Linked DNA regions of Homo sapiens. The protein of the gene in region 4 interacts with the protein of the main gene of each other region in a pairwise test. Each region holds a gene or a part of one and is shown on either strand. Other genes may lie near its edges.

Evidence for each region.
Region 1: the proteins of ZNF330 (region 4) and ZNF547 interact in binary tests that used the Homo sapiens proteins (3 or more experiments, as listed by UniProt).
Region 2: the proteins of ZNF330 (region 4) and STX19 interact in binary tests that used the Homo sapiens proteins (3 or more experiments, as listed by UniProt).
Region 3: the proteins of ZNF330 (region 4) and ZNF426 interact in binary tests that used the Homo sapiens proteins (3 or more experiments, as listed by UniProt).

Annotation. Positions count from the first base shown.
Region 1 is NC_000019.10:57,359,675-57,366,565, reverse strand, and holds the start of ZNF547 (zinc finger protein 547), read right to left. Parts: upstream 3,016-6,891; 5' UTR 2,863-3,015; intron 1,752-2,862; exon of another isoform or gene 1,733-1,751; coding exon of another isoform or gene 1,310-1,732; exon of another isoform or gene 1,161-1,309; intron 1-1,160. Other genes in the region: TRAPPC2B (trafficking protein particle complex subunit 2B), read right to left, coding at 1,310-1,732. UniProt on the Homo sapiens protein: May be involved in transcriptional regulation.
Region 2 is NC_000003.12:94,018,596-94,025,624, forward strand, and holds part of STX19 (syntaxin-19), read right to left. Parts: intron 1-7,029. UniProt on the Homo sapiens protein: Plays a role in endosomal trafficking of the epidermal growth factor receptor (EGFR).
Region 3 is NC_000019.10:9,528,632-9,535,660, forward strand, and holds part of ZNF426 (zinc finger protein 426), read right to left. Parts: intron 6,649-7,029; coding exon 6,557-6,648; intron 5,336-6,556; coding exon 5,209-5,335; intron 4,295-5,208; coding exon 4,214-4,294; intron 2,437-4,213; coding exon 2,354-2,436; intron 1,006-2,353; coding exon 1-1,005. UniProt on the Homo sapiens protein: May be involved in transcriptional regulation.
Region 4 is NC_000004.12:141,223,886-141,230,914, reverse strand, and holds part of ZNF330 (zinc finger protein 330), read right to left. Parts: intron 6,429-7,029; coding exon 6,409-6,428; intron 6,309-6,408; coding exon 6,238-6,308; intron 4,149-6,237; coding exon 4,069-4,148; intron 1,345-4,068; coding exon 1,218-1,344; intron 750-1,217; coding exon 645-749; intron 1-644.

The DNA.
Region 1 (6,891 bases), on a different chromosome or scaffold from region 4:
AAAAAAAAAAAAAAAAAACAATTTATCTGAATTGGGCAAGTCGAAAGCTTATTCCCAGCCAGGCGCAGTGGCTCACACCTGTAATCCCAGCACTCCGGGAGGCCGAGGCAGGCAGATAACCTGAGGTCAGGAGTTCAAGACCAGCCTGGCCAAAATGGCGAAACCCTGTCTCTACTAAAAATACAAAAATTAGCCAGGCGTATGCCTGTAATCCCAGCTACTCTGGAGGCGGAAGGAGAACTGCTTGAACCCGGGAGGCAGAGGCTGCAGTGAGCCAAGATCGTGCCACTGCACTCCAGCCTGCATGACAGGAGCAAGACTCCATCTCAAAAACAAAAAAACAAAAACATACACACACACACAAAAAAGCTTATTCCCAATTTTTAAGTAAAAAATATTTCATGGCCAGGCGCAGTGGCTCACACCTGTAATCCCAGCACTTTGGGAGGCCGAGGCGAGCGGATCACGAGGTCAGGAGTTCAAGACCAGCCTGACCAATATGGTGAAATCCCGTCTTTACTAAAAATACAAAAATTAGCCAGGCGTGGTGGTGCATGCCTGTAATCCTAGCTACTTGGGAGGCTGAAGAAGGAGAATTGCTTGAACCCGGGAGGTGGAGGTTGCAGTGAGCCAAGATCGTGCCACTGCACTCCAGCCCCTGCACAACAGGAGCCAGACTCCATCTCAAAAGAAAAAAAAAAAAGAAAGAAAGAAAGAAAAAGAAAGCTTATTCCCAATTTTTAAGTAAAAATATTTCATGGCCGGGAGTGGTGGCTCATGCCTGTAATCCCAGCACTTTGGGAGGCCGAGGCAGGCAGATCACGAGGTCAGGAGTTCAAGACCAGCCTGACCAACATGGCGAAACTCCGTCTCTACTAAAAATACAAAAAAAATTAGGCAGGCATGGTGGTGGGAGCCTGTAATCCCAGCTACTCGGGAGGCTGAGGCAGAATTGCTTGAACCTGGGAGGCGGAGGGTGCAGTGAGACGAGACTGTGCCACTGCACTCCAGCCTGGGCAACAAGAGCAAAACTCCGTCTCAAAAAAAAAAAAAAAAGAAAGAAATTAATTATTATTGATAATGAGTTCTTTATAAATAACATTGTTCACAAGGAAATACTAATTGATCTACTGATATGTGACATGAGACAGAATGTACTATTTTTAAATATAAAAGAAATTTCATTAAGTTTAGATAAGCTGAGAATACACAAAAGATTTCCAGGCTATTTAATCAAGTAATTTACAATGTACACATTCCTGAGTATACACCATTGTGGTGATATAATTTATTTTGGAATTTTCTCCATTCAGCTTAAAAGGTGTTTCTTCCCAAGAAACTGAACTTTTCTGTCAAATGCACTTGATCGAATAGGAGAATTGGGTTCATAAAATGGATTCATTGAAAATTTTATATATAAATCATAAACATCAGTAAAGAAGTTCTTTATTCCATCTTCTTGTCTTATGTCATGAAGCATAATAAACCTCATATGCCCCGCGGTGACAAATGCTGACACAAACCACTCGTTGAACTTGTCCACAGTTTTCAAGTACATGTTGTTCGACAGCCACATGTTCTCATCTACGAGGTCGAGAGCAGCATGAGCTATGAACTGGTTCAGATGACGATGGTCGTCTTTGGATTCTGCCTTCCCAGCTGGCAAAAACTCCATTTCAAAAACTGGATTATCATGGTGACCAACAATTACAAAGTAGAAGCTTCCAGACATGGTCTTCAATATATGGCTCCTGCAGCGGGAGGCCGACAACGGAAACGCAATGTCAGTTTCCGCGGAAGAGACCCGCGCTCCGCACCTTTTTTTGACACGGAATCTCGCTCTGTCGCCCAGGCTGGAGTGCAATGGCGCGATCTTGGCTCACTGCAATCTCCACCTCCTGGGTTCAGGCAATTCTCCTGCCTCAGCCTCCCGAATAGCTGGGATTACAGGCGCGCGTCACCACCCCCGGCTAATTTTTGTATTTTTACTAAAGACGGGGTTTCACCATGTTGGTCAGGCTGGTCTTGAACGCCTGACCTTGTGATCCGCTCGCCTTGGCCTCCCAAAGTGCTGGGATTACCGGCGTGAGCCACCACGCCCGGCCACCCTCTATTCTTTTGAAGAATCTACACCAGTTCTCCTCTGTAGACTCCACACCTTTCTGTCCCCCTACCCATGTGACATTTTCAACTTGAGACGCCTGAGAATCACACTGGCCAAACTCCAACCCATGATCTTCTCCATGAAACCTACTTCTCATGCTGCTGACTTCCCCAACTTCATTCTTTCAGATGTTCGGGCAAAAAAAAAAAAATGACCCTTCACTCCCTATTTTTGCTCACAGACATATCTGATACGGCAGGAAAACCTGTTGGCTCTATCTTCCAGGTCTATCCAGAATCCCATCACATTGTCCCTCTTATACCACGGCTCTGGTGCAGCCTCTGGGATCCACTGCAGTGGCCTCTTCTGGGTCTCTCTGTGTCAATTCCCCATCCTGCTCGTTCTAACTCTGGACCTGCCCCTCCCACTGGTCTTCCCTTGACAACCTTCCATGGTTATACCGGCTGCTCAGGCTGCCATTCCAAGAGAAAATTCACAAAACCCTCTCTTTCCCGCAGAAACAACCCACACTCCGGGCTCCCCGACGCGGCCCACTTGGCAGCACCTCCATGCTCTGAACCTGAGATCCCCGAAGGGAGCTCTGAGGCTGCATCAAACCAGCTGATACGGGGACCCCACACAGGAACGCCCCTCTCTTCGAGACAAGGGGCCTGACCTGCAGGGCCCCTTCTATGGGCTTCAGCACTGGAAGGAGGGGTCGGGCGGAGGTGGGGGGGGGCCTGGGACGGGGCACCCACCTCGGGTTCTTCGGCGGGGACTCCGCAAGTCCAGCCAGGGAAGAGAGGGGCGGGGGCGACAAAGGCAAGACAAGGACACCGCCGTCCCCAGTCCTTGTCAGCTGAGCTTCTGCCACTGTCAGTTGTGCCTGTGTCACTACCGCCTCTGCGTACAAGGAACCAAGCCGCTTCTCGCGCTTTTCCGCTCCGTCACTTCGGTGACGTCATAGAGCGCCAAAGGCCGGAACTAGTGAAAACACCAGAGAAAATCAAATCAACCACGGCAAGAGGACGCCGGAAGTCCCGCCCTCCTACGATGCGCGAGCACGAGGACGGACGCACGCACGCACGCACGCACGCAAAGGTTCCTTCCTGCACATTCATTGGGTCAGTCGCGCTGCCGAGAACCGCAGTGTCTTCTGGGTTATGAAGTTTCGACACCGCTTCTGGACTTGCCTTAGAGCGTTGGTCAGTCCTTATATGGCGGATAGAGGCTCAGTGGCACCGTCAGGGGAGCTGGTAAACAGAGTGCCGGACTCCACGGACAGGACGGGGCTTGGGTTGCTCTTAAAGGCGACATAACCAGATTTTCTTGAAGTAAGGTCTAGGATACTCACAGAAATGTGAGGGACCTATGATATCGGATTGTGAAGCACAGCAAGTTCTCAACGGCTACACCGCCAAAGGGACACACTATACCACAAAGGCACTCTGTCTCTACTCATGCCTCTCAGCCATATGTTGCTTTTCAAATACACATACAGTTAAACTTTGACTTCTATTTATTAAGCTTCAATATGGTTGGTCCAAGAGAACAAAGAAAGACTACATGGCTGGGAATTTGCACAAAAGAAGACAGGAGATACCGACGTAGATTGAAAGGGTGACGCTGTGCCTCTGGATCCAGAAGAAAACATCATTACTGTCTGTAGAGTCAGTGATTGTGTTCCTACCAAGAGTGCAATGCTTTTATTCTAATAATACTTATTACTTCATGTCTGAAATATTTTACATTTATTTTAAAAGTCTCAATCCTGTCTGAAAATGAGAGTGACTGATACATGCCATTTCCTGACAGGACATTTTGTGCCATTCCATAGTTGGAGTATATGTACACAGGGAACGTATTATCCCCAATAAAAACTGTGAACTTTCATGATCTTATCTCCTTCCTGAGAAGTGAGTTATCATTTTACAGGGAGTTGAAATTATCTGTGAAAATACTTGTGAAATGAAAATTACAGAAATCTATTAATAATAACTGTTAGGTTTTGAAGGGAAGGCGAGGGTTAAAGAAAGGCAGAGTTGGCAGCTCTACAGCAATGCAGGTTTTATGTCCAGCACGAGACCTGTGATGGGGAGAACTAGCTTAGTGCCAGAACCCCTCACTGCTTACAGGCTGGGGCAATTATAGGCCTGGATGAGAGGGGTCAGGGGTGGGGGGCAGGGGGCGCGGCGGGAGGGTATGACTTGCTGCCCAGGAGGATGGTGGGTTTTTTTTTGTTTTTGGAGGAGTCTCGCTCTTGTCGCCCAGCCTTGAGTGCAATGGCGTGATCTCGGCCCACTGCAACCTCCGCCTCCCGGAGTTCAAGCGATTCTTGAACTCCGCCTCCCGAGTAGTTGGCTTTACAGGCGCGTGCCACCACGCCCGGCTAATTTTTTTGTATTTTTAGTAGGGACAGGGTTTCACCATGTTGGTCAGGCCAGTCTGGAATTCCTGACCTCAGGTGATCCGCCCGCCTCGGCCTCCCAAATTGCTGGGATTACAGGCGTGAGCCACAGCACCCGGCCAAAGGATGTGCGTAAGATGTTCCTGAGGCAGTTTGGCCTTTTATCCGGCAGGATGTGATAGTGACCTTCCTTGGATCTTTTCCCAGAACGATGTGATAAGAAAGTCAGGCAGTTGGGCAGGATGTTTCTCAAGGCCCTCACTCCGTGGAATGCTTCACTCTGACCAAGGTCTGTGAGATGGCAGGGGGCTTACAGGATGGTGCAGTTTGGACTAACAGTGATTATGTTATTTCAAAACTAGTGGCAGAAATAGTCCTACAGAAATCTCTCTGTGACATGTGAAGGGGGGAAAAAGCAAGGTTACAGTAGAGTTTGAGCAAGAGTCTGAGAAGTCAAAGAATGAAGTTGAGACTGGCTGTGCTGGAACCTGGACACATTATGCTTCTGTCTCCTATATGTATTTCTTATTTCATACTTGAAAACATCGCTTATTAACTGTTTGGAGGGATAGAGATAACAAATGGAAACACTTGTCAAAAAATAAAAATGAAGGCCGGGTGCGGTGGCTCACGCCTGCAATCCCAGCAATTTGGGAGGCCGAGGTGGGCGGATCACGAGGTCAGGAGCTCAAGACCAGCCTGGCCAACATAGTGAAACCCTGTCTCTACTAAAAATACAAAAATTATCTGGGCATGGTGGCGGGTGCCTGTAATCCAAGCTACTTGGGAGGCTGAGGCAGGAGAATCGCTTGAACCCAGGAGGTGGAAGTTGCAGTGAGCAGAGATCGCGCCACTGCACTCCAGCCTGGGTGACAGTGCAAGACTCCGTCTCGAAAAATAAAAATAAAAATGAGTAGGCAATCTGTGTGATGATGTGTATTTACTGCTCTACAAAATGTTCAATGAGCACGTACAAACTGGGTTTCAGGTCAATGGTAGGTATATGGGACACACCGGGAATAGGGCTGCCAGCTGCTGTGTGTATACAGGACTGTTATGTGTTTCCTTAGATTCTGTATTTGTCTTTTTGGTATTCATAAATCACAGGTTCAAGCTAACAGCCAAAGTTGTTAACTTCTCTGTCTGCAAGCCACTTACTCAGAGGTGTGTGAAACTCACATAAAAAAACCCCAGCCAGGCTGGGCGCAGTGACTCACACCTGTAATCCCAGCACCTTGGGAGGCCGAGGCAGACAGATCACCTGAGGTCAGGAGTTCGAGACCAGCCTGGCCAACATGGCGAAACCCCATTTCTGCTAAAAATACAAAAATTAGCTGGGCATGGTGGCGGGTGCCTGTAGTCCCAGCTGCTTGGAAGGCTAAGGTGGGAGAATCGCTTGAACCCGGGAGGTGGAGGTTGCAGTGAGCCGAAATCATGCCACTGTACTCCAGCCTGGGCAACAGAGCAAGACTCCATTTCAAAACAAAACAAAACAACCCTGCCTTTAAAAAAGATACTTATTGTGTGTTATTAGGGAATTGCAAATAAAAGCAACAATGGCATACCACTACACACCTATTTGAATGGCATTTTAAAATCCAAAATACTGAAAATGCCAAATGCTGATTAGGATGAGATGCAAGAGGAATGTTCAATCATTGTTAGTTGGATGCAAAAATGGTACAGCCACAGCCCGTTGCAGTGGCTCACCCCCGTTATCCCAGCACTTTGGGAGGCCGAGGAGGGTGATCACTTGAGGTCAGGAGTTTGAGACCAGCCTGGCCAACATGGTAAAAACCCATGTCTACTAAAATAGGTGGAGGTTGCAGTGAACCAAGATCATACCACTGCACTCCAGCCTGGGTGACAGAGTGGAGACTCTGTCTCAAAAAATATATATAAATAAAATAAATGGTGCAGCCGCTTTGGAAGACAGCTTGGCAGTTTCTTACAAGACTAAACATGCTATATGACAGAGAAAATTGCACTCCTTGGCACATATCCAAATGAGTTGAAAACATCTCCACAGAAAAACTATACAAATATGTAGTAGGTTTATTCATAACTGCCAAAACTTGAAAGCAACCGTCCTTCAATAAGTAAATGGATAAAGAAACTGAGGTGTATTTATAGAATGGAATATCATTCAGCCATAATTTGCACACAAATCTTCAGAGGTTTATTTGTAATAGCCAAAAACTGAAAGTTACCCAAACATCCATAACAATTAAGTTGACAAAGAAGAAAAATTGTGGTATACAATGAAATACTGAAATACTACGCAGCAATACAAATGAGCAAACAATTGATTCATGCAACAAGATAATGGATTAACCTTAAAATAGTTATGTTTACTGAAAAAGCCAGAGCCCCACCCCCT
Region 2 (7,029 bases), on a different chromosome or scaffold from region 4:
AATTTGTATCTCCAGTTTAGGTTGCTCTTAAAAAACTGCCTACCTGACAGCTGCATTTGAATGCCTCTATCCAAAATGAGCTCATAATCTTCCTGTGAACCCGTAAACTGCCCCATCTCTCTTCTGGCAACTCTATTTTTCCAGTTGCTCAGACCAGAGACTCAGAAGTCTTTTTTTGTTTGTTTTTTGAGACCGAGTCTCACTCTGTCCCCTAGGCCGGAGTGCAGTGGTGTGGTCTCGGCTCACTGCAACCTCCGCCGTCCGGGTTCAAGCAATTCTCCTGCCTCAGCCTCCCGAGTGGCTGGGACTACAGGCATGTGCCACCACGCCCAGCTAATTTTTGTATTTTTATTAACGACAGGGTTTCACCATGTTGGCCAGGCTGGTCGCAAACTCCTGATCTCAGGCGATCCGCCCTCTTCGGCCTCCCAAAGTGCTGGGATTACAGCTGTGAGCCACCGCGCCTGGCTGGAAGTCATTCTTGACTTTTTTTTTCTACATTTCATATGCAAGCACAGCAAATCTTGTCAACATCTCTTTCAAAATGTATTTGGATCTAGCCACCTCTTACCATCTCCCTGGTTCAAGTCCCTGTTATTTTTGTTAATTTTTTATTTTTGAGACAGAGTCTCCCTCTGTTGCCTAGGCTGGAGTGCAGTGGCACAATCTTGGCTCACTGCACCCTCCATCTCCCAGGTTCAATCGATTCTTCTGCCTCAGCCTCCCGAGTAGCTGGGACTACAGGCACATGCCACCATGCCTGGCTAATTTTTGTATTTTCAGTAGAGATAGGGTTTCACCATATTGGTCAGGTTGGTCTTGAACTCTTGACCTCATGATCCGCCCATCTTGGCTTCCCAAAGTGCTGGGATTACAGGCATGAGCCACCGCAACTGGTCAAGTCCCTGTTATTTTTCATCTTGATTGTTAACGATAGTCTCCTAAGTGTTCTCCTTGTTTCCTTTTTGCACCAACTACCCCCCATCCTGCCCCCACCACAAAACCTCTGGTCTTTTCTTAACACAGAATTCAGAGTTAAAATGTAGGTCAGACCATGTCATTCCTGTGCCTAAAATCCTCCTTTGGCATTATCTCTTAGAGGAAAAACTAGAGCCTACAAAGCTCCACAATGACTTCACCCCTTCTGTTACCCCTCCGACCTCACCTCCTACAACTCTCCCTTTCTCTGCTTCAGTCTCACTGTCCTTGCTGTTCTCACACAAATCTGGCACCATCTGGCTTTAGGGCCTTGGCACTTGCCTTCTCTTCTATTTGAAGTGTTCTTTCCCATGTAGTATGTGACGTTTTTCCCCAACCCAGTCCTTACTGAAATGTCACTCCTGAGTTAGGATGTTCTTTGTCACCCTATTTTGAACTATACCTTCTTTCAACTCTCTGACCCTTCCCAGCTTTATTTTTCTTAGCATTTTTCACTATTTAACATACCATGTATTTTACTTATTTATATTAACTTAATTGTCTACTTTCTCCTCCCAGTATTAACTCCATGAGATCAAGGGTTTTTATTCATTCTGGTACCTCATAGAGTTAATACTTAGAGGAGAAAGTAGAGGGTCTTTATTCTTTCCCAGCACCTTGATGAGTCTTATATTTACTTGAGTTCTTATGTTGAGATCTTGATATCTTAGATTTACTTGAGCTCTTAATATGTGCCAGGCACTAAGTGTGTTTTATGTTCTTATAAGAACAAGTATTGTCATGATCTCTATTCTATAGATAATGAAATTACGATCTCAGCTTTAGTAATTGAACCATGTTGTCAGCTAGTGGTAGAGTTGAGATTCAGATTCTGGCAGTATAGTTTGAAGGACTCAACTCTTTATACGACAGTATAGCATACTAGAGCATAGTAACTTCACTATGACATAGCATAGCTTTACTATGCTATGAAGGTTTTTCAGTGGTGTTAGATCATTTAGGGTGAGTTCTGAAAAGAGGCAATTAGGTCAGTTAAGTGGTTGGGAAAAGAGCCAGATCACAAGGGATAAGACCTTGAAATCTGTTTGTGTCAGGAAAAGGTGTTTTATAGATATTAAAAGTTTATTCGGAAACATTTGCTGTATTACTTTATTGCCACATGACTATATTGCTGAGCATTTTAAGTACCGGTGGGAAACATTTAAGAGCAAGTTTTTGTTGCTGAAATGCACTTAAAGCATTCTACTATTTATTTCACCTATTTTAAATACTTAATTCAAATAGCCGGTAATCTTTTGTTTTTGCCACTGATTTGCTATAGTAAAGGTAAAAAAGTTCAGTCAGTACAATTTATGTAAATAGGGGACTTCTAAGCTGGAAGGAGATTCCATACGCCTCTTCCTCTGCATATTTTTATTGTCTATATTCTACTTTACTGGCAAGGAACAGTTTCTCTACCTTCAGAGTAGAGCTAACCAAAGCTAGTGTTTCTATAAGATCCAAGGAAAAAAATGAGCTATGAATGATACTAAACCTGGAACAATTATGAAAGGAAGATTAGTCAGGAGGAATATTAGACGATACTATAGAAAGAATTGCCAGTTTTAGGTGTTAAAAAGTTGTTTTTGTCTTTCGTGTTTAATATTATTATATATATATATATATAATTTTTTTTTTGAGACAGGGTCTCGCTCTGTTACCCAGGCTGGAGTGCAGTGTCATGATCTCAGCTCACTGCAATCTCCACCTCCTGGGTTCGAAGCGATTCTCCTGCGTCAGCCTCCCGAGTTCCTGAGACTACAGGTGCCCATCACCATGCCCAGATAATTTTTGTATTTCTGGTAGAGACAAGGTTTCACCATGTTGGCCAGGCTCATCTTGAACTCCTGACCTCAAGTGATCTGCCCGCCTCAGCCTCCCAAAGTGCTGGGATTACAGGTACAAACCACCATGCCTGGCCAAATATTGTATAAAATATTTGATGCTTATCCAGGTATAGATACTTAAAGACATGTAAAACTATTGGGAAGTAATGTGGAAACTTTTTACCATGTGGCAACTTTGTGAAAGCAGAATTATCACCCATGTTTTATTATATACATCTGATAAGAACTAGTCTTCTTTTCAGTATAGAGAAAATTTGATGTTAAAGTAGGTTGGCTTAGTAATTTATCTTGTATAGCTTCCTAGTGTTCATTTTGTGGTTTAGTGGTATTTATGACTCCCTAATCTATAAGCTCTTTCTAGTATTACTATATTGATGCTGAAAATAAATTATTCCCCAAAGTGTTGAAGATACCATGTCGCATTTAATATAGCCATAAGCTTTTTAAATAAGCTTTTTAAAAATGTTATTTTTTCCCTCAAATTAATAATGCATGTACACAGGTTAACAAGTCAAGTCATGTCAAGGCTTCTAAAGATATATATCTGACCCTTACCTGCCGTACCACATCCCCTTTCCAATTCTCCATTCCTTAAAGACAGTCATAAAGGCAGTCATTTTCAGCTCCTTAGCTATATGTTGCATCTAAACTCCTGTTTCTAGGTAATTTGCATGTGTAGGTATTTTTGCTTCTTCAGTTTTATTTTATTTTATTTTTTTTGAGACAGAGTTTCGCTGTTGTCACCCAGGCTGGAGTGCAATGGTGTGATCTCAGTTCACTGCAACCTCCTCCTCCCTGGTTCAAGTGATTTCTCCTTGCCTCAGCCTCCTGAGTAGCTGGAATTACAGGCGCCTGCCACCACGCACAGCTAATTTTTGTATTTTTAATAGAGATGGGGTTTTACCATGTTGGCCAGGCTGGTCTTGAACTCCTAACCTCAAGTGATCCACCCGCCTCAGCCTCCCAAAGTGCTGGGATTACAGGTGTGAGCCACCGCACCCGGCTGCTTTTTTGGTTTTAGTTATTTTATTGAATTTCTTCTATGGAAGATGTGGATTTAATCTTCTCTCACACCCCCATTCTTCCCTCACCTTCCCCCTTTTAATACAGTTATATCACAAATTTTGGTTAATCAATATTTTGTGTTTACATTATTGTGACTACCCAAATATTATTTATATGTGAGTCACCTAAGGTACTGTAGCTGTATTTCCTTTCTCAAATAATTTTTTAAATTATTTCTAAGTTTTTTCAATGGATAGAGATAGAAAATGAATATATTTAAGAAAACTTCTTATTGACATATTTATATATACAGAAAGTCCCCCAGAACATAAATGTATATTATGGTGATTTTTCACAAAGTAAATACATCCATGTAACTACCACATAGATCAAGAAACATATAACATTTAATTTTAAGAAAATATTAATTACCAAAGTTTTTCACCTGCTTAATTTTGTACATACATCACTAATTCATTCTAAAACTGAAGTGAATTGAACATATCCTCTTGACATATTTAAATATAGAATATATATATTTTTATTTCATTTTATTCATCTTTTGAGGCTCCTTTCCTGGAAACTCTAATGTAACCTGATTGTGTTAGAATTTTCTTCCTCTTTTATATTCTCTATTTTTGATTTCCAATTCCTCACCTTTCTTGGTTTATCTCCTTGATTTGGGAGTGTACCATAGCTCCTTTTCAAAACATAAATGCAATGATAATTTTCATTACTGAAAATATTTTTATTCTGTCCTATACTTGAATACTATATTTTCTGTGGATATAAGTTTCAGTTGGAAATTATATTCCCTCAAAATTTTGAAAGTTTTGTTACTACATCTTCTAGTTTTGTTACCTCTGAATATTCTGCCCTGTGTTTTCTGATATTTTGTAGATCTGTTTTTATATTTCCTTTCATGAAATTCTTGACCTTTTTTTCATATTCCTGGTGTTCTGAAATTTCACAACAATGTGATCTGGGGTAGGTCTTGATGCATTTATTTGGTAAACATATAGTTGGTCTTTTCAACCTAGAAACTCATGTATTTACGGTCTTGCTTTTTTTTTAAATAATTTCTTTAAGAACTTTATTTTCTCCATTTTCTTTGTATTATTTTCATGGCCTTTCAGACATTAAGAAAATTAAAGAAACAGTCCAGTCCAAGAAAAGCAACGTCCAAATAAGGGGAATTTTAAAGTGACTTGCCTAAGGCCACACAACTAAAAGGTGGCAGATCCTACGTTTAGACATATCTACTTGATTGCAAATCTGTTCTTTTTCCCCTATTGTCTATTGAGTAGAAATTGGTTATCCTAGTGAAATATACACAAATAATGTTTATCTATATCAAATACTGTATTATGTTACTAATATACATACTATATCTATTTAAAAGAAAAAATTTAGCAGGAGATAATATAGCATATAGGATCTAAAATAATGTTGTTGTTTGAAGCTTTATTAGGATCTTTAATATAATCAGACCAAATTGATCACTTTACACTATAAAAGAAGAAAAATAATTTGGATCTCACAGACTGATGTTTACAGAAAGTCTAAGAAATATTGCATTTTATATTTGGTACTATATGGAGATTGATATTCTTATATTTTCTTCTGCTTCAACTCATAGTCATCTAACCAAATTTCTGTTTCCTTCTCTTGTACTAGCTTGTCACTATGAATTGTTTTTTAAAAATTAATTAATTAATCAATTAATAGAGAAAGGATCTCGCTCTTTTGTCCAGGCTGGTCTTGAACTCCTAGCCTCAAGGGATCCTTCCACCTTGACTATGAATTCTTAAAAATACAGCATATATAGCTGAAGTGCTAGTTGCCACATTATTATTTTTTAAACTGGGTTGCACCCGTGTAAATATAGGGAAAAAGAAAGAGTAACAATGTTAGAAGCTCAGAGGCGAGAGAAAGAGAAAGTGGCATCAAACAAAACAGATTTTGATTTTCTATCCATAAAAATTAAGTCCTATATTTATACAATGGTTCAGTAGCTTTTAACAATCTTTAATTTTCACATTCCTCAAGAACTACAACATCTTGAACTTTCTCTTTGGTTGCATGGTTTGGAACAAATCCTGAAACAACTCCCTCTAATGTTTTTATGACTGGAAAGATCTTTGTCCTTTTTTGGGCGTGTTGTTTTGTTTTATTTTTGAGATAGGATCTCACTCTATCACCCAGGCTAGAGTATAGTGGCTCAATTGCGGCTCACTGCAGCCTCTACCTCCCAGGCTCAAGTGATCCTTCTCCCTCAGCCTCCCGAGTAGCTGGGACTACAGTTGCATGCCACTGTGCTTGGCTGATTTTTTAAAATTTTTTGTAAAGATGAGGTCTTGCTGTGTTGCTCAGGCTGATCTCTAACTCCTGGGCTCAAGCAATCTTCCCACCTCCGCCTCCCAAAGTGCTGGGATTATAGGCATGAGCTAGTGCACCCAGCCTCTTTTTTAAAAAAATTAGAAATAAAGTAATCAAAAGCCTTTTTCTAAAGCATCATAGTTTAAAAATTTTTAAGAAATAGACTATTTCAAATTGCTATTGGAGCACAGTGTACACAGGCCTCTGGGAAGGTGAATTTTCCTGTGAAGTGCCTTTGAGAAGGTGCATTTTACTGCCACTGATTTTGGAAAGCAGGATATTTGAGTCTGACCTCTATAAAGGTTGTTTTTTTCCTGGATTTTTATCCATGTAATATCATTCCCTGAACATGCACCACACTTTTATATTTGAATAAAAGGTACTTTAAGGAGCCCTTTAAAATATATTAATATGTCCTTTTTATTAATCTTAATGAATTTACAAGCAAAAAACAAAATATCCTTTTTTTAATATCTGTATACATTATTGATATTAAAGGCAAAACATGGAAATAGAATCAGGTTTCCTTTCAGTGTTATACATCATGGCAATGCGTATTATGTAAACGATGTTTAAAGTGAGCTATAAAGGTTATACTGTGTTTGTCTTGGTTTATGGATCCTATGCCTGTATTTCTTTTGAACATTTAGAGAATATTTATGTGAAAGATCCTTTACATTATTAGGTTATTTCTAGTTTCTTAGGAGTAAATTCCTATGTTTGCTGTGGCCACGGACTGGTGACCACTCTGTTAAATGTGGGCAAGTGTATTTAGTGAAATTCGTCAGTAGCCTAGCTTCATTGGGGAGTTATACAAGAA
Region 3 (7,029 bases), on a different chromosome or scaffold from region 4:
AGTGTGGATTCGCATGTGAATTTTAAGGTGGGTGGAATAGTTAAAAGCCTTCCCACATTCCTTACAGGTGTATGGTTTCTGGGCACTGTGCGTTCGCATGTGATTATTAAGACATGAGGGATACCCAAATACTTTCCCACATATCTTACACTCACAGGCCTTCTCTTCAGTGTGAGTTCTCAAATGTCCACTAAGATTTGAGGAAACTGCAAAGGCTTTCCCACATTCAACACATACAAAAGGCTTCTCTCCAGTGTGAGTTCTTATATGTTGAATAAGGCGTGAGGATGTAAGGAAGGATTTCCCACATTCCTTACATTCATAGGGCTTGTCTCCACTGTGAGATCGTACATGCATACTAAGGCCCGAGTACTGAGTGAAGGCTTTCCCACATTCCTTACATACATAGGGTTTCTCTCCAGTGTGAGTTCTTCCATGTATCTGAAATGAGTTGGAATAATTGAAGGCTTTCCCACATTCCTTACATTCATATGGTTTCTCCCCAGTGTGGGTTCGCATGTGAATACTGAGGTAGGCTGGGTATCTATAGCCTTTTCCACATTCCTTACATTTGTAGGGCTTTTTTGCATTGAGGGTTTCTATAAGCACAGAAAGGCTTGTAGAGTCAATAAAACCTGGCCCATAATTCCTCCATTCGTAGAGTTTTTCTCCATTGTGAGTTCTCATATGTGCCTGAAGGTATGACTCATTAATGAAGGATTTTCCACAGTGACTACATTCAAATGACTTTTCTTGTGTGCTAGTTCTCTGGTATACAATATTTGGTGTCAGGCTGAAGATTTTTTCACTCTGATTAAACTCAGAAAGTTTCTCACCAGTAGAGGTTTTCTCACACAGGGTAAGGAAATCTTTTCCATACTGATTACAGTCATGAGTGTTCCCTGTACTTTGAGTTCTCACGTGCGTCTTAAGGCATGAGTGTTCACTGAAGACTTCTCCACATTGCTCACAGTCACAGAGTTCCCTTCCATTGTGTTTTCCTTCCTGTTGAAGGGATGATGATGATTTAAGGATTTTTCTCAAACATATTAACAGAACATACCCATCTGAAGCTAGAAACATTATAATGGTGATTATAATTGATGCCATTTTTATTACATGCATTCAGGTCCTTCCCTGTAGATTTATTTTAAGTGGTATGACTTAACTCTTATTCTAGAATGTTGTGCCATCTACTTTAATCTTGGCTAGGCATGGTGTCTCATGCCTGTAATCCCAGCACTTTGGGAGTCCGATGGGGGGCAGATCACCTGAGGTCAGGAGTTCAAGACCAGCATGGCCAACATGGTGAAACCCTGTCTCTACTAAAAATACAAAAATTAGCTGGGCTTGGTGGCACATGCCTGTAATCCCAGCTACTTGGGAGGCTGAGACACAAGAATCGCTTGAACCTGGGAGGCGGAGGTTGCAGTGACCCAAGATCACACCACTGCACTCTAGCCTGGGCAACAAAGCGAGACTCCGTCTCAAAATAATAATAATAATAATAATAACAGATTTCTGTAGAATTCAATGTCTAGATGGGTGCAGTAGCTCACATTTGTAATCCCAGCATTTTGGGAGGCAAAGGTGGGTGGATCATTTGAACCCAGGAATTAGAGACCAGCCTGGGCAACATGGCAAAACTCCATCTCTATAAAAAATATCAAAAAATTAGCTGGGCATGGTGGTGTGTTCCTGTAGTCCCAACCACATAGGAGGCTGAGGTGGGAGGATCACTTGAGCCAAGGGGTCAAGGCTTCAGTGAGCCATGTTTGTGCCACTGCAATCCAGCCTGGGTGACACAGCAAGACCTTGTCTCGACCAAAAAAAAAAAATTCATAGTCTAAGCCAGATGTGGTGGCTCATGCCTGTACTCCCAGCACTTTTGTAAACTGAGGCAGAGGATCACTTGAGCACAGGAGTTTGAGACTAGCCTGGGAAACACAGTAAGACCCTGTCTCCACAAAATTTTGAAGAATTAGCTGGGTGTGGTGGTGCATGCCTGTAGTCCCAGCTACCAAGGGAGGCTGAGGTGGGAGGATCGCCTGAGCCCAGGAGGTCAAGACTATACTGAGCCATGATTGCACCACTGCACTCCAGCCTGGGTGACAGAGCAGTATCTCGTTTCAAAAAAACACCAAAACAAAACTCAACGTCTAGTTACACTTGTGGGAATGTGTGAAAGCTCCAAAGAAACAAGTTTCACAATTGGAGCATCCCTAAATTCTTTGCTCCCTCTCATGTGTATGCAACTTCTCTCAAATATCTCTTATTTTTGCTGACTTCCCATAACAGAATTCCTGATTTTCTCTGAGGGTGGAAAATAAAAAATATCCTATGCAAATCTTACCAATTGTATCCCAATGGATGTCTGACCCCTCAAAAAGTCCTGCTGAAGTATAGACCACTGGGTTTCAAGTCGCATTTCCCATCCTGAAATAAAACAGACAAACAAATAAAAGGACTCAAGCTAGGCACAGTGGCTCATGCCTGTAATCCCAGCACTTTGGGAGGCTAAGGCAGGTGGATCACTTGAGGTCAGGAGTTTGAGACCAGCCTGGCCAACATGGCAAAACCCCACCTCTACTAAAAATTCAAAAGCTAGCTGGGTGTGGTGGTGAGCACCTGCAATCCCAGCTACTCACGGGGCTCAGGCTGGAGAATCTCTTGAATCCAGGAGGCAGAGGTTGTAAGGAGCTCAGATCACACCACTGCACTCCAGCCTTGGCAACAAACAGAGTGAACCACAACAAGAACAAATGAAAGGATTTGGAGAAAGAAATGCAAAGAGTTCAAAACAATATGGCTTATTTCTATTTGTTTCAAATTAAACATGGCAAGAAAAAGCAGAAAGACATTTGGGGATTTGGGCTATATCAAAAATTTGGTTTTGATGTAAATGATCCAAAGGGGGAAAAATTGGCCAAGACAAGGACATGGGGTAAAACTTTTCGATCGTTTATTACAAATTGATGCTATGAAAATTAAAACTGATAGTGAATAGAGAGAATCAGGGAATGAAAGTAGGAAATTTCTGAAAAAAGAGCGTATATCTAAACAATTAACTTGGCCGGGCACGGTGGCTCATGCCTTTAATCCCAGCACTTTGGGAGGCCGAGGCAGGCAGATCACGAGGTCAGGATATTGAGATTATCCTGGCTAACACGGTGAAACCCCGTCTCTACTAAAGATATAAAAAAATTAGCCAGGCATGGTGGCAGGCACCTGTAGTCCCAGCTACTTGGGAGGCTGAGGCAGGAGAACGGCATAAACCCGGGAGGTGGAGCTTGCAGTGAGCTGAGATTGCACCATTGCACTCCAGCCTGGGCGACAGAGCAAGACTCCATCTCAAAAAACAAAACAAACAAACAAAAGCCACAATTAACTTAAAGAAATGTTCTAAGACCCCAGGTGGATGCCTGAATCATGGCTAGTTCTGAACCCTGTACATACTATGATTCTTCGATCTGGTAACTGAGATGACCGCTACGTGACTCACAGGTGGTGTACACAGTGTAGATACATTGGACAAAAGGATGATTCACACCCCAGGCAGGATGACATAAGGGTTCATCATACTACTGAGAATGGTGAGAAATTTAAAACTTATGTTTTGTTTATTTCTGGAAATTTTTCTTTTTTTCTTTTTTTTTTTTTTTTTTTTGTGGGGTGGGGGTCAGTGGCCAGGGTCTCACTCTATCACCCAGGCTGGAGTACAGTGGTGCAATCACATCTCACCACAGCCTTGACCTCCTAGTCTCAATCCATCCTCACAGCTCAGTCTCCTGAGTTACTGGGACAGCAGGTGCGTCCCACCACCCTCGGCTAATTTTTGTATTTTTTGTAGAAACAAGGTTCTCGGTATGTTGCCCAGGCTGGTCTTGAACTCCTGGGCTCAATGATTCACCCACCTAGGCCTCCCAATGTGTGGGGATTACAGGTGTGGGCCACCATGCCTGGCCGAGTTTCCCATTTAATATTTTTGGACCATGGTTGAATGCAGATAACTGAAACCGTGAAAAGTGAAATCACAGACAAGGGGGGACTGCTCTGTAAATAAAAGCGTGTGGGAAGTTAAATATTTCCTAACTTTCTCTAAACCTTGGGGTTTAGAGTGCAGGGAGAAAGTACATGTTAAAAAGTTTCCTAATTATGCTTTCAAACATACTGAACTTCTCATCAACCAGAGTTGTTCTTCATGAACACTCACCTTGGAGAACTCCTCCCTGAACTGTCCTTGACTCTTCTTGTTCCAACCAAGAGATTAGACTGGGTTTGATGATCTGACCTCCTGAGCACAGAGAAATACATTAATGGAAGAGGCTCATAAAAAAGATTACAAACCTTTCTGTGATTCAGGAACTACAGATCTAATGAAAGTGGTGAAGCTATTTCAAAAGGGCGAAAAATGCAAATAACAACTCTGACTGTGCCCCAAACAGTCTGGTTACTTCTGTCCCCTAAACCGAAATTCAGGCTTATGTACACATTTAAAAAGCACTGAGACTTTTATTCAAACACAAAATAATGGCCGAGTGTGGTGGCTCATGCCTGTAATCCCAGCACTTTGGGAGGCTGAGGCAGGTGGATCACTTGAGGTCAGGAGTTCGAGACCAGCCTGGCCAACATGGTGAAACCCCATCTCTTCTAAAAATACAAAAAAAAAAAAAAAATAGCTGGGTGTGGTGGCGCATGCCAGTAATCCCAGCTATTCGGGAGGCTGAGGCCCAAGAATCGCTTGAACCCAGGAGGCAGAGATTGCAGTGAGCTGAGATCATGCCAGTGCACTCCAGCCTGCGTGACAGAGTGAAACTGTCTCAAAACAAGAACAACAACAAATAAGGAATAAGGAAGTATAACAGAGATCTTCATTCTTCTGGGGAAACAACTACCCCAGTGTTTTTTAAAACATTATTGTGCATCAGAGTCATCCAGAGAACTTGTTCAAACACAGATTATTGGGCTTCAACTCCAGGTTTCTGGGTGGAGAAGGAAAATGTACATTTCTAACAGGCAGATGGTGTTGCTATTAATCTTGGACCACATTTTCAGAATGGTCACAGTAGATTAAAATCTATTTAGGACAGGGACTATGTCTCTGTTATTTCTCTTTGCATTCAGAGTTGACATTGCCAATGCTGCAAAACAGTAAGTACAAAACATATCAGTTCCATAGAAGGCTGCAAGGGATGAGGCCAGTCTTACCTACTGTGGCCAGGTTCTTGTAGTTCTCCAGCATCACGTCACTGTAGAGGCTTCTCTGAGTTGAGTCCAGTAAAGTCCACTCCTCCTGGGTGAAGTCCACAGCCACATCGTCAAAGGTCACTGAATCCTAAAGCATCACACACATGCTGGTTGGAGCCAAGTAACAAGCCCATCAGCGTTCGCTGGAGGATGAGGAAGGGGGACCCAATGCCTATGCAGGATTCCAAGGGCTGCAGTGACCAGCCCCAGGTTTTAAGGGTCCTAGAAACTCCTCGCACCCTAAACATACTCACTGTCATCTCCTCCACTCATAGTGCATTAATGGCACTTCTTGAATATGAATTTATCTCAGCACAACCAGACTAGGAGATCTCTTTTTTTTTTGAAATGGACTCTTACTCTGTTGCCCAGGCTGGAGTGCACTGGTGCAATCTTGGCTCACTGCAACCTCCACCTCCCAGGTTCAAGCAACTCTCCTGCTTCAGCCTCCTGAGTAGCTGAAATTACAGGCACACGCCACCATGCCCGGCTAATTTTTTGTATTTTTAGTAGAGATAGGGTTTCAGCATACTGGCTAGGTTGGTCTCGAACTCCTGACCTCATGATCCGCCCCCTTCAGCCTCCCAAAGTGCTGGGATTACAGGCATGAGCCACTGTGCCCGCCCAAGATCTCATCTTATTTCCATCTATTTGAGCGCATTGCTCAGCACATTCCAGACATCTGATCAATGCTGATAAACAACTTAAAGGACACTTTTTTTTTTAATTTTTTTGAGACGGAGTCTTGCTGTGTTGCCCAGGCTAGAGTGCAGTGGTGCAATCACAGCTCACTGCAGCCTCAACCTCCAGGGCTGAAGTGATCCTCCCACTTCAGCCTCCAAAGTAGCTGGGAGTCCAGTCATGTACCACTTTGCCCAGCTAATTTTTAAATTTTTTGTAGAGACGGGGTCTCACTATGTTGCTCAGGCTGATCTTGAACTCCTGTACTCAAGCAATCTGCCTGCCTCAGCCTCCTAAAGTGCTGGGATTATGGGTGTAAGCCACCATGCCCGGCCTGGGATGATTTCCAAGTTAGCACCTCCCTATATGGGTGGCCCCAACCCTTGGGGAAATTCAAATGGGGATTCAGTCCTTGAGTGACACTTTATTTGCTTTAAGAAGCCTGGAGACCGGAGCTTGCAGTGAGCCGAGAGCATAGCACTGCACTCCAGCCTGGCAACACAGCGAGACTCCCTCTCAAAAAAAAAAAAAAAAAAAGAAGTCTGGAGACAACTCTGCCTAGAGGGAAATGTGTCTACCTGGTGGATGCAAGTATGTCACTATGTATAAGAATACAGCTGCTTTTTACCTGATAACAATCTGTTAGGCAGTCAGCCACTATTCTTCCTGCTGGTGTCTTTTCTTCATGAAGGCAAACTGGGTCCCCAGAAAGATAATGTCCTGTAAGAAAATGAAGGCAAGAGAACCCCGAGCTGACCATAATCCCCACATCCACCTACCTAGAGGTCATTACCTCCTAGTATGAAATTCCCATATATTCCTGCAAAATCAGGAAAACACACATAAGGCCAGTTGCAGTGGCTCACATCTGTAATCCTAGTGCTCTGGGAGGTTGAGGTGGAAGGATTACTTTAGGCGAGAAGTTTGAGATCAGCCTGGGCAACACGGTGAGACCCCGTCTCTACAAAAAAATTTTAAAATGAGCCTGGTGTGGTAACACACACCTGTAGTCCCATCTCCTTGGGGAAGCTGAGGCAAGAAGATTGCTTAAGCCTAGGAGTTCGAGACTACCCTGGACAACACAGTGAACATAAACTCCCC
Region 4 (7,029 bases):
ATATGGTGTCTCATTTCAATGAACCTTCCAAGAAAAAAACTATGTGTAAAGATGATACTATTACCCAGTCAGCAATGCTGGCTCTCAACTGGAAAATACGTGAGAATTTTGTGTATAGGTTAAATACAGGTGCCTGGCACCCACCACGGACTTAAAAGATAGAATCTCCAGGGATGAGGCCTGGACATCTACATTATTTTTAAAACCTCCACAGGTATTTTTGATATACAGTCCTGTCTAAGAATCACTAGAACCAACTAGCAGAAACAAACAGGGTGGTATCTCTTACGGGAGGGCATTTGGAAATGGGAAGGAAGGGTGAGGTTTGGTTTTTTATAATAATTTGAAGGTAAAAATGACATGTGGTACTCTGAACCACGAAAGGTGTAAGTCCTGCAATGCCTGATCAAATCAAGCCTACAAAATGAAAAACTGGCCCAACCAATATGCCACTGGCATCCCTGCTGAAAAATTTACAACTATATTCTGACTGTTCTGTTTTCTAGAAACAGAAAATAAAGACTGAGTTAAATTACAGTTCATGAGAAGCAGTATAAAAAAACTTGATTCCTTTTTCATTAAGATTAATAATTATACTATTCAGAATCTTGGGTATAAAGAACATCTAATACTTAAAAACTTACATTTAAATGTTTCTGCCTCTAAAACCTGGCAGCTGGCTTGATGCTCAAATTGATCATCTTCACAGAGAAAGTTATGGCAAAAAGAACAACTGAATATTCTGCCTCCTATTGGATTAAAAAAACACAAATGTAATTAAGATAAACTTTAATTTAAAAAAACTCATATCTATAATACTGCTTAGAAGAGATGGTAAGTTACTTTGGAGATACACCAAAATTGTTCAGCCATTTTTATTCTGATAAAAGCTAAAATGAAAACTGTTGAAGTCCTTGAAACTGAACTGAAACTGAGAAAAGGGGGCTCTTACTCTCCACTAGCTACCCATATAACACTCACAATGCTCAAAGAGACTACCTGCTCCACCACAACTTCCCTCCATGTTTGGGTAAACAATACTAGCATTGACAATAACAGACAGTATAGATCCCTTCTCTAACTACACTGATAATCAAAACAGTACCAGTAGTTAGGATTGACAGTATCCTGAAAAAAATCTCAAAAACAGCATTCAAAATGTTTCAAAGTCAACATTCACCTATAACAAAGCTCATTACTTGTGTCTAATGACTCACCATGGTCCCACACGCCTCGTTCACATTCAACACACTCAGCATCGGTAAGAGGGCAGGCACAAGCATGTGTACTGAGACATTTCCTACCATGGCAAACCCAAGCTTCACAGAAGTCACATATTGCACCCTGTAACCAAGGAACAAGAATACATAATCATTATCACCTGACCACCTGCAACCATTCTTTAACCACGGCAACCATCAAAACTGTATACATTTAGCAATTTATCAACCCTCAATGATAGTAGGCCGCTTCATTTAAACATTTTACTACTCACTCTAAGCCAAAAATAAAAAGGGTTCTCTGAAAAACAACTTCTTAACAGCTATCCACAATATACAAAACTCAGTTACATATCAAAAGAAAAAAAGGTAAACTGTACACTTATCCTAATATTATTTAATTAAGCCAAAGAGATGGAAGTATTTTCCTCAAAATGAATTTAATTCAAATAAAGTTTGAAGGAACCAACAGCTTAAGCTTTCTTGTCTATAATAATTCCTGTAACTACACTGAATTTTTAAATACTACCATTTCTGATTTTTAAAATACCTTCTTATCTATATATTTGCATAGCTTTTCTAGAATTACTGAGAAATACGAAACTTCTGCCAGCTTCTTTTTTTCTCTTATGACAACTTATGTTTTAATAATAATTACATTTCTTTGTGGAAAAAATTTGAAGTAAAATATATGGAACTAAAATACAGGGTAAGATTCTCCAATTCTATATCAAGAAAAGACAATAACAATATGTTTCAATAAAACATTGACACCTACCAAATATTAAAAGCTAGAAAGAATCTTAAGAGAGTAGGATCAGACAATCTTTCCTTTATAAAGGAAAAGCATGGGGCCCAAGACTAAATCCAAGTCCCGAGTTGGATTACAGGTGAGGTGAGATTTAAAGCCAGGATTTCAGAATCTCAATTCAGTATTCTATTATTCAAGGCTCTGAAACAAATGTAGTAAACAACAAATAGGAAGAATGTTTTTTGACTTGCAAAAATGGGTTATCAGTATAGCTAGCAAATCATCAACTATATCTCTTGGATCAGCCAGGGTTCTTGCAAAAAAGAGATGGTACTCTCAAACTAGGTAATCTAGAAGAGTTTTAAAGAGATAATTTGCAGAGGACAGGGAAGTTCTTAGGACAAACAGGAGAGGACTACCTGGCCATATAGGGAGAACTGTGGTCCTTAGAGAAAGGATAAAACCAAACCAGGATAACCTGGTACGGAGTGAGATGAAGGAATAAACACCCAGATCTTATTCTCCTGCTATTCTCAGGGGGAATCTGGGGAGGCAAATAGAAGATATCCAGAAAATCACTTTTCTAGAATTTACAACTAAAGATATATGACTCTACTTAAATGTTTTCTTTATGTAAGAAGAAATTATTCACATTCAAAAAACAGTGATTTTAAAAAATGAATTTGGCTGAACTTAAGCTACCAAGGAAGACTGAAAGTGTTTTTGAATAAAGATAACTTGACAATCCTATACTTAAAATAAAGAGCAATTCACAAGATGATAATTCTCGCTCCTTGCTTCTATAATATATGCACATATGAAATATATCATAGGTCTCCCTCATAATAGAAGTTTACATGTTCTTGGAAATTTACCATAAATAAAATATTCCATTTGACATAAATATAGTATCATTTTCCTCATAGATTAAAATTTGAACAAAATTTTATTTGAACATAAAATCATACTGCAATACAGTAAAACTGGTTAACTCATATTTAGAAGGAAAACATGTTTCAGGAAAAAGAGCAAAATACATCACATAATCCAGTTGGTTTTATTATTCAAAAAGCTGAATTTACTTTAAAAAATCCTATATGTAATGAAGAGGTATGTTAAATATATACACTTTTTTGAAATGTAAAGTTTTAAAGAACACTATTATCCTAGGTTCGTTTGGAACTAAGTTGCTTATTTAACCAAAGGCTTAAACGTTGGTTAAGCAGGGCTTTCGGTACACTAAATACTGTTTTGTGAAGTCTGGTTAAGAGATATTAGAAAGGTACCACTGAGTATATACCCAAAGGATTATAAATCATGCTGCTATAAAGACAAATGCACACGTATGTTTATTGTGGCACTATTCACAATAGCAAAGACTTGGAACCAACCCAAATGTCCAACAATGATAGACTGGATTAAGAAAATGTGGCACATATACACCATGGAATACTATACAGCCATAAAAAATGATGAGTTCATGTCCTTTGTAGAGACACGGATGAAGCTGGAATCCATCATTCTTAGCAAACTATCGCAAGGACAAAAAACCAAACACCGCATGTTCTCACTCATAGGTGGGAACTGAACAATGAGAACACATGGACACAGGAAGGGGAACATCACACACCACAAACCGGGGACTGTTGTGGGGTGGGGGGATGGGGGAGGGATAGCATTAGGAGATATACCTAATGCTAAATGACGAGTTAATGGGTGCACCACACCAACATGGCACATGTATACATATGTAACAAACCTGCATGTTGTGCACATGTACCCTAAAACTTAAAGTATAATAATAATAATAAAATTTAAAAAAAAAAAGGTACCACTGAGAAATGAAATTCTGTTTAGATCAGCATGAAAAGTTTCCATGCCTTGTATGTTCCCTAATAAGAAAGAAAGAAGCAGCTAGAAACAAGTGGGTACTAAGGGAAAATCATACAAAAAGCATGCCACTCATAATCCAGATAACTACAGATTGATTGAAACAAGGGACAAAGCAATGATATTTAGAAAAAAATAACCACTGATCAGAATGACATTTTCTTATCCTTGAAAACGTACTAGTCTAAGAGATAATAAGAAGCTTACCACCATTGCAAGGCCAGTACTGTATACACCAGCATGCTTTATGACACAGTCTGAAGACTTCATCATGCACTTTGTTTTCCCTAATGAAGAAAAACATTTGCACTGTTAGTCTTGCAAAGGAATACATACCAGTACTCACGAATTCCTCCTTTTATCCAGCCCAAGTTCCTGAGGAAATAATTTAAAAACTAATGAAATTGAATCAGTATTTACTGCTTACATAACTAGAAAGAGAAAATGGATATAACTGAGACTTCATTACTCGAATCAGACTTTTCAGATTATACATTTACTAATAAATCTGTAAAATGAACTATACAATATATATGCTAATTTGTACTAAATCAGAAATTGCAGGTTATGCTTTGTAATCTAATGATCATTTTAACAGTTTAAAAACTTATCAATCTTCAGATTATTCAAAACAATTTTTAAAGGAATGCTTTTTATAACAAATTTTACATTTTATAATTCACAATAAAAACTGTGGTTTGAAGTTATTTCTTTCCACAGAATAATACCTCAAACCAAACCAAATAATGATTATGTAACTTATCGAGTTAATGTAATTTTATCCAAACATAAAAATTTACAACGAAGCCCCCAGTTAAACATTTTCCCAACAAAATTTTGAAATAGTGCCCAAATAAGCACAATAAACAATACGGTGATACAGCTACAAATCACCACACAGCCACTAAACCTCTGATCTAGAAGCAAATTAAATTACCAACTCAAAACACTATCAGGAAATTTGCTTATCAGATATTATGTGAGAGTTAATGATGACATTAATCATCCATCTGAGACTCCACAAAATGGAACACAAAAGAAACAATTTTCCGTTATCTTGATTTCCTAAGGAACAAAGTTAGTAGGAAATGGGAAGAGAAACTGGAAATGAGAGGCAGCAGCTACCCAACTGTTCCATGTCCAACACTAAGAATCAGTAAATGAGAAATGTATCCATCTAACAACACTACAAAATTTAAGCCCAGAGACACTGAAAATAGGGGTAAGTCCTAGCAAGAACTTACCTATTAATCTTCCACAAACTCTGTTTCCTCACTCTACATTCATTACTTTTTGCAAAACAAGGCTATGAAAACTACCATATGAGTGTTCCATATAGGCCAGTTTTCTCTTTTTCATTAATTGTGGAATTGAAAAGATCTTCTTTGAAAGCTAGAACTACATTAGAAATATTCAGGGATATAGCCCTAAACACTACTAACTTTCTGGAATATTATTACATATAAACACACTTAAATGAGCATACCCCAAATTGTTCTACCTGAAATTATTATTATTATCTCATAAATAAAAGCAATACTTGTTCATCAAAAGTTGGGGGGGGATGTAAATCTAGAGTAATAAAGTTAATTGGGTTTCTTTGTTGCAAGTCTTCAGAACTTCTAACATATAAATATATAATAGAAATCTCCCAGATGAGAATGAAAGGAGGATGCATGCAGTATTTCTCAAATGTATATCGATATATATTTTTCAAGAAATATCCATTAATATTTCAGGAAGTCTGTGGAAGACTATTTGGGAAACACCCATCTTGCTAACATTTAGTTTTATTTTGTATAATCATTTTGGGGTACAAGTCTCCACCTATACTTAAGAACCGGGCACATGACTTAAGAACTCTATTTAAATCACCTGGGAATACATGTGAGGAAACTCATGAATCATATGGTAAGCATCAAACACAAAAACTACTGATCACAAAATAAGTACCAGGTAAATGTGGAATAAAATTATTCCCAATGGTCTAACACACTGCAGGTAATATCAGCAGGAATCAAAATGTAGATAAGTAAACAAACAGATACTGACAAGACTAAGGTAGTATAACTAAAAGTTCAGGATCACCAAATGTTATGTCTGAAATCTGATCTTTCACTGTTTAAAAACACTTATTGGTAACCTGTATCTAAATTGTACCTTAATTATTTTCCAGCATTACATCAAAGAGACAAAACCAAGGCTTGATAGTTTTTTGGTAGGCAAAATAACATGTTTTGTTATTTTGTTAATGGTAAGGCATAATATTATCAACAATTGTAAGCACTGTAACCAATAGCAACAAACCCACCCAAGTTCAAATTGTTGAACTACCAGTTGATAAAAAGCATATGTCCTTAATTATTACAAACTTACCACACTGTGCACAAATTGGTAACTTCTGTACAGAATTACAAAAGTAGCAAAATGCTCTATTCTTCTGCCGCCTTGTCATGTAAAATAAAATTTTAAATTATGGTCAATGTCAGATAAAAAGTCAGAGGGACAATTTTATTAAAGGTAGATAGAAAAAGAAATAAAATTTACCTCTGACACTTGTCACATTCCTGTAACATATAAAAATATCACATTAATTTTTCTGCTGACTGAAAACTGCAAATTTACTTGTATTACAAAGAATAACCTGCTTTTCAGGTTAAAATTTAAGTGACACTACACCAAAGCCCCAACTCCACCCATGTATACAAGCACCTACCCATGCTTAAAATAACAAAGGTATGCGAGAGTGATACTCCGGGTATATGATTCCCTGAAGAAGTGGCATTATCACAAAGGAGGCTAAATACATTGGTAGTTTCTTTTTCAATTGTTTGTAAGGAATAAAATACCACAGAATGAACACAAGAACTATCCTTTTGATAGTTAAGTACATTCTAAGCCTTATGAAACGTTAAGCACATATTATTCCAAATGAAGTGGGTGACCCTTAAAATAATGCATTTATCTAAGGCACCGTTCCAAAGAGAATACAAAATAATAAAGTTCACAGAAAATCCAGATTCCTAAACATGGTTTTAAAAGCTCTCCACAATCTGGCCCCTAATCACTTTCCAAACCTTCTTGGCCTATTCTTTTTAGACTCAAGTCACTAATGGTCAGCCATTCTCCAAATATGTCTTATATTCTCTCTTCTCCATGTCTTTACTT